Linked DNA regions of Homo sapiens: regions 1, 3 and 4 are each reported to be linked to region 2. Evidence: microRNA targets listed by miRTarBase, many of them from high-throughput screens and not tested one by one. Region 2 holds a microRNA gene; each other region holds the end of a gene's coding sequence. Distances are between the middles of the regions.
The links. The annotated mature microRNA hsa-miR-570-3p reads CGAAAACAGCAAUUACCUUUGC and lies in region 2 at 1,392-1,413, opposite strand. An mRNA with a match to its seed (bases 2 to 7 or 8) in the 3' UTR can be bound and repressed. Matches are read on the target gene's strand: a 7mer-m8 pairs with bases 2 to 8, a 7mer-A1 pairs with bases 2 to 7 and ends in A, and an 8mer does both.

Region 1 (3,136 bases), not on the chromosome of region 2:
GAACATTAGGTCGCCCACAATTGCACAACAAGAATGAGGATTCTCACCTGGCCTTAGAGTCTGCTTCCTCGGGCCTTCTCCTGCAACCACCTGCCCTTTTGGCCCACACCAGGGACAGGGAGGTGCTGGCAGCTGCTGCCTTTGGTGAGAGAGAAGCAGAGGAGGTCCTTGCCCGAGATTCCCCACGTCAAAGTTGGGAGCCTCTAGGAAACCTGTCCCCATGCCTCCCTCTAAGGTGTCACATTGCCCCCCTTTCAATTCTGCAGGAAGTGGTGTTGTGGCGGAAGGGTGACATCGTACGGAAGAGCATGTCCCACCAGGCGGCCATCGCCTCACAGCGCTTTGAGGGCACCACCTCCCTGGGTGAGGTGCGGACCCCCAGCCAGCTGTCTGACAACAACTGCAGGCAGTAGGCCCCCAGGGCCGAGAAGATGCTGGGCACCCACCCAGCACCCCCATCTACCAACACCAGCGGCTGGGGGCGGGGGCGGACCTTGTGAGGCTCAGTTGACCCGTTACTTGCAACCTGAAAACAAATCATGTTTTTGACTTAAATTCTTTTCTCTGGAGAACCCAAGGGGCTTGGGGTGGGAAGCAGTCTCTCCTTGGGATTCTGCGGCCGATGTGGGATAGAAGAGGTAGCATCCTGGAAGCCAGCCTCTCTGGGGAACATGAGCCCCCTTCCTCGGGGGGCTGCCTTGCGTCTTAGAGGAGGGAGAGCAGAGAGCACGCATCCTTGGCTCCTGGCTCTCTGAGCTTCCTGATACAGGATCTGAGCATGTCCCTGGGATTCTGAGCTGCCAACAGGGCCCTGGGTAGTCACATCTTGTACTCCCCTTTGCTGTCCCGGAGGTAGTGGCAGGAGTTGGGCCAGCCCCCACTAAGTGGCAGGGGAAGACTCACGATTGGGAAGCTACCTCTTTGGGAATCTTGGATGTGGTGATCTCAAGTTCCCACAGGCCACCTCCTTCTGGCCACTCACTGCTGGGACCCAGGCACCTCCCTTCTCCATCCTCTCTGGATTGTCAGTAATGTCCTGGAACAGAAGCCTGTGGGATGGCCTTGGGCACGGAGAAGCCCTGGGGTCAGTGTCGTGCACGGATGGCGGCAGTGTTGAACCCAGGAGGCTGAACCCGGCCCACCACGGAAGATGAGTGCATGGCAACCGCCTGCCTTCACGTCGCTCCACTTGGTAACCCCAAGGTCTGGGCTGTTCTAGGTATTGCTTCACGTGCCCCAGCAAGCCCTTAACAAGAGGGCCTGGTTCCCTGAAGAACCAATCCCAGGAAGGGGCCTTGATCCCTCCGCCTTGCTGAGAGTGAACCCTCGTCTCTCCTCACCCTCCATTTCATTTCTGGGAATTGGGGCTTAGTTTCGAACCTTTGGCAAGGCTGTTCTTACTAATGCCCAAGCCCCTTTACCCCTCTCCCTATAGGTTACACAGGGGAGACCAGGGCCTCGGCAGAAGACTGCTGCCACACTTCCGAATCATTCTGCTTGCCAAATAGGTCATCTTCACCAGTTGACTGACCCAAGTTTAGGACCATTGGTATCGTGTGTTTAAAAAACACATATAAAAAAACTCTTGTGAATATTCTTGTTATGCTAGAGAGGAAGGTACTTCTCCCTCTACGGCTCTGCGCTGGGGCCTATGGTAGTAAAGTTGTTTACTGTCCTTTTTCTGCTTCCCCTGGAAATGACAGGCATTACTCTCCCATTGGCCTCCCTTCCCTTTATAGAAAGACCAAGCAGGCCCCACTGGCCAAGAGGTACGGTATTTGGCAGTCTGAGTTCTCAGTAATTTGGAAAGTTAAGGAGTTGGTTCCTGTGTCACCTTTCAGTTAGTGTGGGAAAGGAAGACTTCTGTTTTCCTGAGATCAGTGCAGTCTCAGGCCTTTGGCAGGGCTCATGGATCAGAGCTGAGACTGGAGGGAGAGGCATTTTGGGTAGCCTAGGAGGGCGACTGGCGGCAGCAGAACCGAGGAAGGCAAGGTTGTTTCCCCCACGCTGTGTCCTGTGTTCAGGTGCGACACACAATCCTCATGGGAACAGGATCACCCATGCGCTGCCCTTGATGATCAAGGTTGGGGCTTAAGTGGATAAGGGAGGCAAGTTCTGGGTTCCTTGCCTTTTCAGAGCATGAGGTCAGGCTCTGTATCCCTCCTTTTCCTAGCTGATATTCTAACTAGAAGCATTTGTCAATTCCTTTGCCTCCCAACTGACAACACACGTTCATTTTCCAACCTTCCTAACATCTTAAACCTTTCTTCTGGGAGAACTAGAAGACAGAATTTGCTTTGATTCTCTCAGGCGCTGTGCACAAGCCAGGTCTTCTGTTTTCTCTTTCTTACTCTACCCACATTCTTGCCTTCTCTATCCAACTGTGAAAGTGAGGGGAGGCTCCTGTCCCCCTCTCTTAAGGTCCCCAAACCTGGGAGTGCATAGGTACTAAATCAAGCAGTGCAACTTGTAATTAAGCAGCTGCAGTGTTTACATGTTTCTTAATGTGTCATCTTTTCAATGGCTGTATTAAAAGAAGAACGTTTGTTTTAATGGTCTTTCTGATTAAAGAAAGCCCCTGTGGCTTTGGAGGCATTGTGCCCACGGTCCACCAAGTTCTGTGGTCTCTTCCGTCTTACATGGTCCCAACTCCGACACTCAGGGAAAGACAGATCCCTGCCCTGATTTCCCTACATAGTGCCTGTGCTCTCACTGTATAGCCCCGGGTGAAAAATGATGAATACTTTATTAGCCACCTGTTTGAGACAAGCACATGGCTGAGAAATGAATTCAGTTCTTATCCCTATCTGGCAGTTTATCCAGAACTGCTCATGGGATGGTTTAAACCTCTGTGGGACCCAGAAGATGAAAGGGGCAGGTGAGCAAGGCTGGTGTAGAAAGAAGAGTTCATTCCAGTGGGTGTTACCAGACTGAGGATCTCAGCCCTACGTCATGCAATTTGCTACAGAACTACTAGTGATCGTAAAGAAAGAAGGTGGAGGCAGCTCTGCATCTGGGAGCGGCCAAAGGAGCCCGCCTGGAGGTAAGAGGTCTGCAGTGGGGAGTATCCCACTGCACTCAGTGTGGTTTTAGAAGAAAAGTTCTTCAACTTTGATATTTTATTGAAAAAAGTACA
Region 2 (3,139 bases):
CCCAGAGTGGCTGCACCACTTTAAATTCTCACAGCAGTGATTGAGTGGTACAGTTCCTTTGCATCCTTGACAATAGTATTGTTACTATTTTTTATTTTGGTGATTCTTTTTTTTTTTTTTTTTTTTGAGACATAATCTTGCTCTGTCGCCCAGGCTGGAGCGCAGTGGCATGATCTCAGCTTACTGCAACCTCCGTCTCCTGGGTTTAAGCAATTATCTTGCCTCAGCCTCCCAAGGTGCTAGGACTACAGGCGTGTGCCACCACACCTGGCTAATTTTTGTGTTTTCAGCAGAGACAGGGTTTTGCCATGTTGGCCAGGTTGGTCTTGAATTCCTGATCTCATGTGATCTGCCTGCCCCAGCCTCCCAAAGTGTTGGGATTACAGGTGTGAGCCACCATGCCTGGCCTTATTTTGTTGATTCTAACACGTGGTGATATCTCCTGGTTTAAAGAAGCGTTTCCCTAATGGTATCAAACATCTTTTCATGTGCTTATTTGCAATCTGTATATCTTCTCCAGTGAAATGTTGCTTTGTATCTTTTGCTCATGTTCTAATTGCATTCTTTGTTTTGTTACTATTTTAAGACTTTTAAATGTATTCTAGATACTAGTCCTTTGCAAATATAGTCATGCATCGCATAAGGACATTTTGGTCAATGACAAACTGCATATAGGATGCGGTCCCATAAGATTATAATAATGGGCCTGAAAAAATTCCTGTTGCCGAGTGCAATGCTACTCATGTGTCTAGTGATGCTCGTGTAAAGCTACTGTGCTGCCACTTGCATAAAAGCACAGCGCACACCATTCTGTACAGTACACAATACTTGATAATGATAATAAATGTGTTCCTGGATAGCACAGCACACACCATTCTGTACAATACACAATACGTGATAATGATAATAAATGTGTTCCTGGTTTATGTATTTACTATAATATACTATTGATCAGTGTTTTAGAGTGTACTCCTTCTCTCTATAAAAGAATTAAGTGAACTAGCAGGCCCTTTGGGAAGTACTGTAGAAGGCATTGTTACCACAGGCGATGACAGCTCCATGTGTGTTATTGCCCCTGAAGACCTTCCAGAGAGACAAAATGTGGAGGTGGAAGACAGTGATACTGATGACCCTGACCCTGTGTGGATCTAGGCTAACATGTGTTTTTGTGTCTTAGTTTTCAACAAAAAAGTTTAAAAAGTTAAAATACTAAGTTTATAAAGTTAAAAAGTTACAGTAAGCTAAGGCTGACTTATTGAAAAAATGTGCTTATACATGTAATATAGCTAAGCTGGCTTTTGCAAACATAGAGTCCTGTGGATGTTATGCTGACTTCGGCTTGGGGTTTTTCACAGAGAGAAGCATGGCAAGGGGGACTCCATCAGGTTGGTGCAAAGGTAATTGCTGTTTTCGCAATTAAAATAATGGGAAAAACTGCAATTACCTTTGCACCCACCTAATAACTTATCTAGGGGACTCTTTCTCCACCCAAAACCCAGGACACTTGGCCCACAACTACATCACCACCCCAGGGTTCCAGGACACTTGGCCCATGACTACATCACCACCCCAGGGTTCCAGGACACTTGGCCCACAACTACATCACCACCCCAGGGTTCCAGGACACTTGGCCCATGACTACATCACCACCCCAGGGTTCTTTACTATAGTTTTCTTGTTCTTCCTTCAATTACGTGTGACATTCCCAACTCCAAGATTCTTCCAGTCCTTCTCTCCCCCTTCATCTAAAGCAGGCTGTCATGAGTTTCTGTCAGCTGCAATCAAGAGTCATGACTCTTACAGTGGGTAGGATTACTCCCTTTTTTGTTGTCATTAAGGAAACCTGTAAGAGGAAAAACAAACACACTTTATGTGGAGAGACAGGGAAAGTTGTTCTATTCAGTCTGGAATCTAGTCCCTCAGCTGGTGGTCCACCTTCGGATTCACTGGTCTTGGGAGTAAGACGGTGCCTTGTAGTCAAAGAAGTGAGGAATTCTGGTGCCTCCTGAGGGTGGAACTGAGGAGAGGAGACGTGAGAGAGGATGCTGGAAAGGAGGAAGCAGCCAGAATGTGTAGGGCCTTTGTGGCCAGGCCAAGGAGCCTCAGGGAATATCTGAGCGTCTTAAATAGGTCAGAGGGCAATTCTGAAAACAAACTCCTTCTACCTGCTGTGTAGGCAATGAGTTGTCATTGTTAGATAGAGGATAAAATGAACCCAATTAGATTATTGCCATCATTCCAGTGATTGAAGATGTTGATCTGTAATAGGGTAATGGCCATACACTTTCGAGAGGAAAAATGTTCAAATTTAGGGGATAATTAGAAATCTGCACTTACAGCCCTTGGTGACACTTTTCCTATGAGCCAAACGGAGAGGGGGAGAGAGAGAGAAGGTGGACAGTCACCGACATATGAGGCAGTGGAAGAGGAACAGGCATGGATAGGAAGAGAATTGTGGGACACACTGGGTTCGAGATGCCTGTGTGAGACAGTCTCATGAATATGTCCAGTAGTATATTGACCAAGCAAGTCTGTCAGGAGCCTCTGGAAATGAGGTACAGAATTTGATAGTCATCACTATGGAGATGGTAACCTGAGCCGTGAGAGAAGCTAAAATCCCCGGGGAGAGGATGTAGAATGAGAGGAGAAAATGGGCCAGGACAAACACAAGGAATGCTCGGAGGGAGGGGCAAAACCAGAACAGTACAGCGTCCCCAAACCAAGGAAAAGAATGTTGCCAGAAGAGGAGAGTCAGGCTGTTTCAAACTCTGCTAAGAAGTGAAGGATGTTGCATATTGAGTAGAGTCCATTGGGGTTACCAGTCAGGCTGACTCAGGGATCCTCTTTGGCAGAAGTAGTTCCAATGAAGTGGGAGGAGGAAGGGAGGAGCAGAGGCCAAATGAGCGTGAGGAGTGTTTAGGAGTTGACAGAAAGTGTATCCACTTTTTTGAGACGTTTAGCCAGGAAGAGGGAGAGACATGGGGCAGTAGGTGGAGGAGGAGATGAAATTAAGGGAGTGTATGGAGTTTTAAAATGGAAAGCTTGATCCTGTTTAAATGCTGTTTTATGCCCCTACGAGGGCGAGGTTAAACATACAGAATAGAGGCATAACTGATAGAGCCAAGACTCCCACCCAGGA
Region 3 (3,139 bases), not on the chromosome of region 2:
TTTAATAGAGACAGGGTCTCACTATGTTACCCAGGCTAATCTTGAACTCCTGAGCTCAAATGATCCTCCCACCTTGGCCTCCCAAAGTGCTAGGATTACAGGCATGACTCACCACCCCTGGCCTCAGTGTGAATGTTAAAATAGTCACCAAAATCGCTGTATGGTGCTGGTAAAGAATCCTGGGCTTTACAGGATACTGACAAAGGATAACAGTGTGTCTGTTCACCATTTCAAGTGGCACCACTACCTGGCAAATGCATATGCAGTTTACAATGTGCCAGTTTTGAAATTTTGTAATTCCTGCCGATTTTTTTAGGCTATAAGTATGTGAATTACTTCAAATTTTGAAAACAAAGTGAGCCTTTATTAATATTAGATCAACTTTTAAATCCATATAATTCAAGTCTACAAAAAGTGCAAATAAACTATAAATCCTTTAAAATTTCTTTTAAAAATTAATCTACCTGATTCCAGGAGTGCAAAGATGATTTAATGTGGGAAAATCTATTAATATACCTCATCAAAACATCAAATGAGAACAATTATATGAATGCTTTAATAGATGCCCAAATGGTATACTGTTTAAAGTTCCAGAGCCATTTCTAATTCAAACTCTTTAAAAACTAAAAGAGAGACACTGTCTTTCAGATAAAGACTATCTAACTCCCAACAGCAAACTTAAAACTATGGACATTCCCATTAAAATAAGAAAAAAAAATGTCTAACATCATTATTGTTAACATTGTCCTAAACATTTCAGATAACAAAACATGCAATAAAAGTGAAATAAAACTATCAGAAGAAACACTATCATTATTCACTGATGATACTGAAGTTTTTCCTAGAAAACCCAGAACTTACTGAAAAAAGTATTTGAATTAAGTGACTACACACCAGGAAAATATCAATTTATCGTCTGATAAGACTATTAAGTATATACCTATCATGTCTCTCCACATATCTCCACTACTATTACCTGGACTCTAGTTAGAATCACTATTATTTTTTTGTCTGGATCACTGCATCAGGCTCCTAATTGGACTGGCTTCCCTATCTCCAGCCTGGTGAGATTTTACACACTAAGGAGATAGTGATGTTTCTAAAACCAAATCTGATCATGTCATTCCTTTGCTTAGATCTTCTCATCGATTCTTATCATATTTAAAGTAAGATCCAAATTCCTTATTATAGCCTTATTTATGTGGCTCTATACAACGAGGTCTTATATACAGAAATGCCATTCTTGACACTCTAGCTGCATTGTCCTTTTTGTTCCTCAAACATACAAAAGAGGCTTTATGTTTGCTATTCACTCCACCTAGGATGTTCTTTCCTTGAATCTCACAAGGATAGCCCATTCTAAAATGTCAATCACATGTTATCTTAAATGTTACTTCTTTAAGAGGTCTCTTTGGCCGTGCAGCTTATAGTGGTACGGTGCGGCACAGTGCAGTGGTATAGTGGTGAGCATAGCTGCCTTCCAAGAGGTCTCTTTGATCGTCCAGTCTAAAATAGCCACTCATTCACTATCTCATAATCACCCTACTTTAATTTCCTCCACAGAATCTAAAACTCATGGTCTGATACTTTCCCTGGACATACTTAGTATCTCCTCCCCACTAATGTCACCTCCATGAGAGCAAGAACTCTGTCTTAATAACTGCTTATCTCCCAACACTTAAGTGTCTGACACATAAGAATCACCAAATAAACATTTGGATTTTAATTGTCTGTCATTCTCAAAAGACTATAAGCTCTACTAAACAAGAACTAGGCCTATTTTGTTTGTTGTTCTCTCTCTAAGACTCTGGCACAGGGTATACATTCAATATCGAATGAATGAATGAATCCCTTCCCTTCCTATAGTCCCTAGTATTCTAAGACTGGGCAAACGTTTTTGGTGATGTCAAAACATTGCTAGTCTATAATGAGCTTGTAGCCAACTGATACTGTAACTAAATCAATTTATATGAATTATATAAAATTAAATATCTCCACCTCTATCCATTCCCCAAATTCTACACTGATGTAACTGACTTCTTAGGCTAAACATAGAGCTTTAAGTTTGATGGCCTTCTTGAAATTAACTTTTAAAATGCCTTTGTCAAAAAATACTTATAAGAAAATAATGGGGCAAGGAAGTTAAATCTTTTAAGCCCTGACCCATAAATTATTTAAGTAGCTGGCAGACAAGAGACCTTCTTTAAAGTGATATTAACAAAAAAAAAATTTGAGGTACTAAAAAGTTAATCTAACTTGTCAGTGTATACAGAAATGACCACTCTTTGCTGAAACTAACAAAGCCACAAAGAACTGCCTCTTAAGTGTTTAAGATACTGCATCACCATTTTGATTACCCAAGAGTTACTCATTAAATATGACACAGAGTACATAGCTGCTGGTTTGCAGGCACTCTTAAGTATCTAATTACTTCAAACAAAAGGCTACATTCTCAATTTTTTATATTTTGTTTTTATTCAAGAGTTACTCACAGGCAGCACTTTAAAATTAGGCTTTTTAAATTAAAGGCCAAAACTAAAAAAGTTTGCAAATATGACATTACTAAAAGAATGATAGCCTTAATAATTTAAACTCTAAAATGTCCGTCCTGTGGAGTTAAGGTCTTTATACACAGAATGTGTAAGATCGATATCATTTAAAATAAACAACTGAAAAACCACAGATGGTGGGTAAATTTGTCAATGAAGATAAACATCAGTTTCAGCCTTCTAGAGTATGAAAACCGGCAATTAATTAATCCTGTGACAGAATATAAACTGTACTTCAGAATTTTGACTTTAAAGTCTCTTTCTCCAGCAGCAAATCAGCATATCTATGTTGAAGTTCCTTTTCTCTTTCTTGTTGTCGCTGAACGTCTTCTTTTAGACACTTAAAGAAAAAAAATTAAGTAATTATTTTAGATGTAACTATACTGAAAAAAATCTACAGTACTTTATTATCTTAAAAACCAGCTGAGTTAAATCATGATTCTTAAGAGTTAAATATTTCTCAAAGAGAAACAAACATATCAAATACTTTTGCTATAAAACCAGTATCACAGCCATTCTTTGATTTGGTCATATGAAATCCTGCTGCTACTTCAAATAAACAAACCACTACTGTCTTATCAATACCCACA
Region 4 (3,128 bases), 5.7 Mb from region 2:
ATAATTATCTGGTCTAAAAATGTCAATCAGACCAAAATTGAGAAACCCTGACCTAAACTCCGGCAACAATAGTGCATTGAGGAGAAAGGGGCAGAGACAGCAGATAGAACAGAATAGGTGACTTATCAGATGCAGGAAACCATGGTCGGGCTTTTAAGGCAAATAGGTGAGCGATGTTGGTCTTTACCGAGAGAGAGCCTACGTGAAGAACAGAGCAGGTTCTTGGGGAGAAAATGGTGAATTCAGCTTGACCACTGAACTGAGTTGGAGATGGCTATGGGGCCATGAATTAGAAAGAGTAGGAAGCAGTTGAACATACAGTCGTTCTTTGCAGGAGAGAAAATCTTAGAAAGTAATTGCTTAGGACCCAGGAATGTTAGGAGAAGGCATCTGTCTGGGGATGAAGAGGAGGTGTTCAATGCTTAACTGGATATAGCATCAACCCATGTACAGATGGATGCCAGGAAGTGTTTGGGAAGCGTCTGCTGATGAGACTGATTATTATGCTTGTAACAGAAATGTGTAAATTGTCTTTTTTGCAGGAGCGAATACAGGCTGATGAAGTGATTGCAATTCTGGATCAAGAACAGCAAGGGAAGCATGAACTGAATATCAACCCTAAAGATGAGCTATAAAAATGAGAAAGAATGTTCTATCAAATATTTATTTAAATTGTTAATCTTATGAGAACCTTTTTATTTTTGTACAGAGCCATGGTATAAATTAACAGGTTAATGTCAGTCATCAGATCTTCCTTCTCTTCCTAAGGATGCTTGTGTTGCCTCAATCTATCAATCTATCTTTCTTGTTTTGGGTTGTTTTCTCTCTCTCTCTCTCTCTCTCTCTTCTTAGAGACATGGTCTAACCATGTTGTCTAGGATATAGGGCAGTGGCTATTCACAGATGTGATGATAGCACACTGGAGCCTCAAACTCTTAGGCTCAGGCGATCCTTCAAGCCTCCCGGGGAGCTGGGACCACAGGCACGTGCCACCACACCCAGCTCTCTTTCTTGGTTTTTCATCATTTCATGTATCTATCAAAGCCCAGTTCACCTCCTCCCCCAAACACACACACACACACACACACACACACACACACACACAATTAAGTTGCTGCAAATTCAAAAGCTTAGAGAGAATAAGCTTCTTGGTGGTGAAACTACAACTCTCACGTGTGCTCCAGTTCTAAAATTAACCTGTGCCTGGTCTCTGAAGCCCTTTCTTGCTCTGTGCCTTTCAGCCACATCCTTAGGTGCTAACGGCCATGAGCTCCGACTCTCCAAAGTGAGCTCCACTTTGGGTCTGAGGAGCCCCTGGCAGAGTCCACGCTGCCTCAGGTATCATGGGCGTAATGATCACCCAGGCTCCGGGAGATCTCATGGATGATTACTGTATGAGACAGAGGGGACTTCAGTCTTTCCAGGGCCTTGGTGGAATTTTTGGCTCTGGTGTTTTCGCCAGACAATAAACTTACACTGGAAGCTTTGATTCACCCTCCACAGTACTCCAGAAAGGACTGTCCTATAAGTTGTACACTTTAAAAGGTCATGTAGAGGTTGTAGTAGAATGGCTTTTCACCCTGGTGACTTTGGAAGAAACTCTTGAATACTGCCTGCATCCGGGCACCATGGCCAGGTTGCCTAGGAGTGGGGTCCACTGATGAAAAGAGGTGTTTTGTACTTACATAAGAAAAATAAATTTCTGATTGATTTTAACCGTCATCTGCTTATATTTTGGGGGCCCCTCCTCATTGCTGCTATCCAGCACACAGATTTGTGCTTGTGTCTGATTTGTTTAATAAAGGGAGGCTTATTTTAATATCTGGCATTTATTTTTGTTCTCCCAAATGTTTGCTTTATCTTCACAGAATGGTTTTGTAATTACATAGGAGCTTTTGGGACCACTTTAGGGGCAACATTGGGACATGACTAGTGTTGCTGGTGCAGTGGCCTCAGGAAAGGTGGGGACACTGCTCTTGAAGAACAGAGATGGAGACCAAACTGGGCATTGATCCAGAGAATGCTTGGTTCCAGGTCCCACTTCTAAGAAAGACACTACAAAGGCATAGTTCATGGGGGATGGGGTTCTTCTAACCTAGGGGAGACTTTATCATTCGCCCGTGGGAGATCACATGCTTTTATGACGGGCAGTGGTGGAGGGAAGATTTACTTTCTGCCGTTTACAATCTGGTGAGTGGTAAGAACATTCATCCATTGAAATTGAAAATTTGAGTTAGTGATGTATGAACCATCTGTTTTTTACTGAACCTTCTGGTTGTATTTTAATCATGGGAGAGTGGAAAGAGCATTGGATTATCCTCCCAGTTCTATCAAATATGCCCTGCTGTGTGATATGGAACTACTCTCTTTCCCTTTCCAGACTTTAGTTCCCTTCTCTGAAAATGACATAATTGATTGTAACAAGGCCCTCCCTCCTACTCAAAATACAAACAAAGCAAAAAGAAAAAAAAGAAACCAAAACCATTTTAGAAATAGTCACAACCAAATTTATTTCTGCTAACATTTAGAGAGTTGTGAATGGTTTTGTTTTGTTTTGTTTTGTTTTTGAGACGGAGTCTCACTGTCGCCCAGGCTGGAGTGAAGTGGTGTGATCTCAGCTCACTGCAGCCTCCACCACCTCCCGGGTTCAAGCAATTCTCCTGCCTCGGCCTCCTGAGTAGCTGGGATTACAGACGCCTGCCATAATGCCCAGCTAATTTTTGTATTTTTAGTAGAGATGGGGTTTCACTATGTTGGCCAGGCTAGTCTCGAACTCCTGACCTCAGGTGATCCACTCGCCTTGGCCTCCCAAAGTGCTGAGATTACAGGTGTGAGCTACTGTGCCCGGCCGTGAATGGGTTTTTTATGTGTGTACCTGATTTTTAAAAACGTAAACCCAAATTTAGACCTAAAAGTTCTTGAGCTTTGCAAAGGTAGATTGCTATTTGTCCTCCCACTGTGAAGAGCTTGTTGGCACTCAGATTTGCTGATTGGAGGATCTGGGTGAGGATCTGATTTCTGTTTTCTGGCAACAAGGCATCAACATAGAAACAGTCTTTGTTTGGCTCCTTAAAGTTCCCACTTCCTGGGTGCGATGGGCACTAGGGGAGGGGCAGGGACTTCATCAC

Region 1: miRTarBase lists VPS26B as a target of hsa-miR-570-3p. Seed matches in the 3' UTR shown: 7mer-m8 at 1,865-1,871 and 7mer-m8 at 2,335-2,341.
Region 3: the mRNA of CDC5L is a reported target of hsa-miR-570-3p. Seed matches in the 3' UTR shown: 7mer-A1 at 2,738-2,744 and 8mer at 346-353.
Region 4: the mRNA of P3H2 is a reported target of hsa-miR-570-3p. Seed matches in the 3' UTR shown: 7mer-m8 at 817-823 and 7mer-m8 at 1,451-1,457.

The regions. Positions count from the first base shown.
Region 1 is chr11:134,245,178-134,248,313 of GRCh38, forward strand. It overlaps VPS26B (VPS26 retromer complex component B), which reads left to right. Exons shown (of 6, transcript NM_052875.5): 6 at 267-2,611. The coding sequence ends at 413. It overlaps THYN1 (thymocyte nuclear protein 1), which reads right to left. Exons shown (of 7, transcript NM_014174.3): 7 at 3,105-3,136. Among named protein-coding and RNA genes, the nearest start is that of THYN1, 6.6 kb to the right of the region's middle.
Region 2 is chr3:195,697,734-195,700,872 of GRCh38, reverse strand. It overlaps MIR570 (microRNA 570), which reads right to left and starts at 1,472; the gene lies at 1,376-1,472. The region is part of intron 2 of MIR570HG (MIR570 host gene); the gene reads right to left. It overlaps LOC124909477 (a long non-coding RNA gene), which reads right to left. Exons shown (of 2, transcript XR_007096227.1): 2 at 1,803-1,843.
Region 3 is chr6:44,446,357-44,449,495 of GRCh38, reverse strand. It overlaps CDC5L (cell division cycle 5 like), which reads right to left. Exons shown (of 16, transcript NM_001253.4): 16 at 1-2,889. The coding sequence ends at 2,785. Among named protein-coding and RNA genes, the nearest start is that of MIR4642, 12 kb to the right of the region's middle.
Region 4 is chr3:189,955,419-189,958,546 of GRCh38, reverse strand. It overlaps P3H2 (prolyl 3-hydroxylase 2), which reads left to right. Exons shown (of 15, transcript NM_018192.4): 15 at 543-1,819. The coding sequence ends at 635. Among named protein-coding and RNA genes, the nearest start is that of MIR944, 130 kb to the right of the region's middle.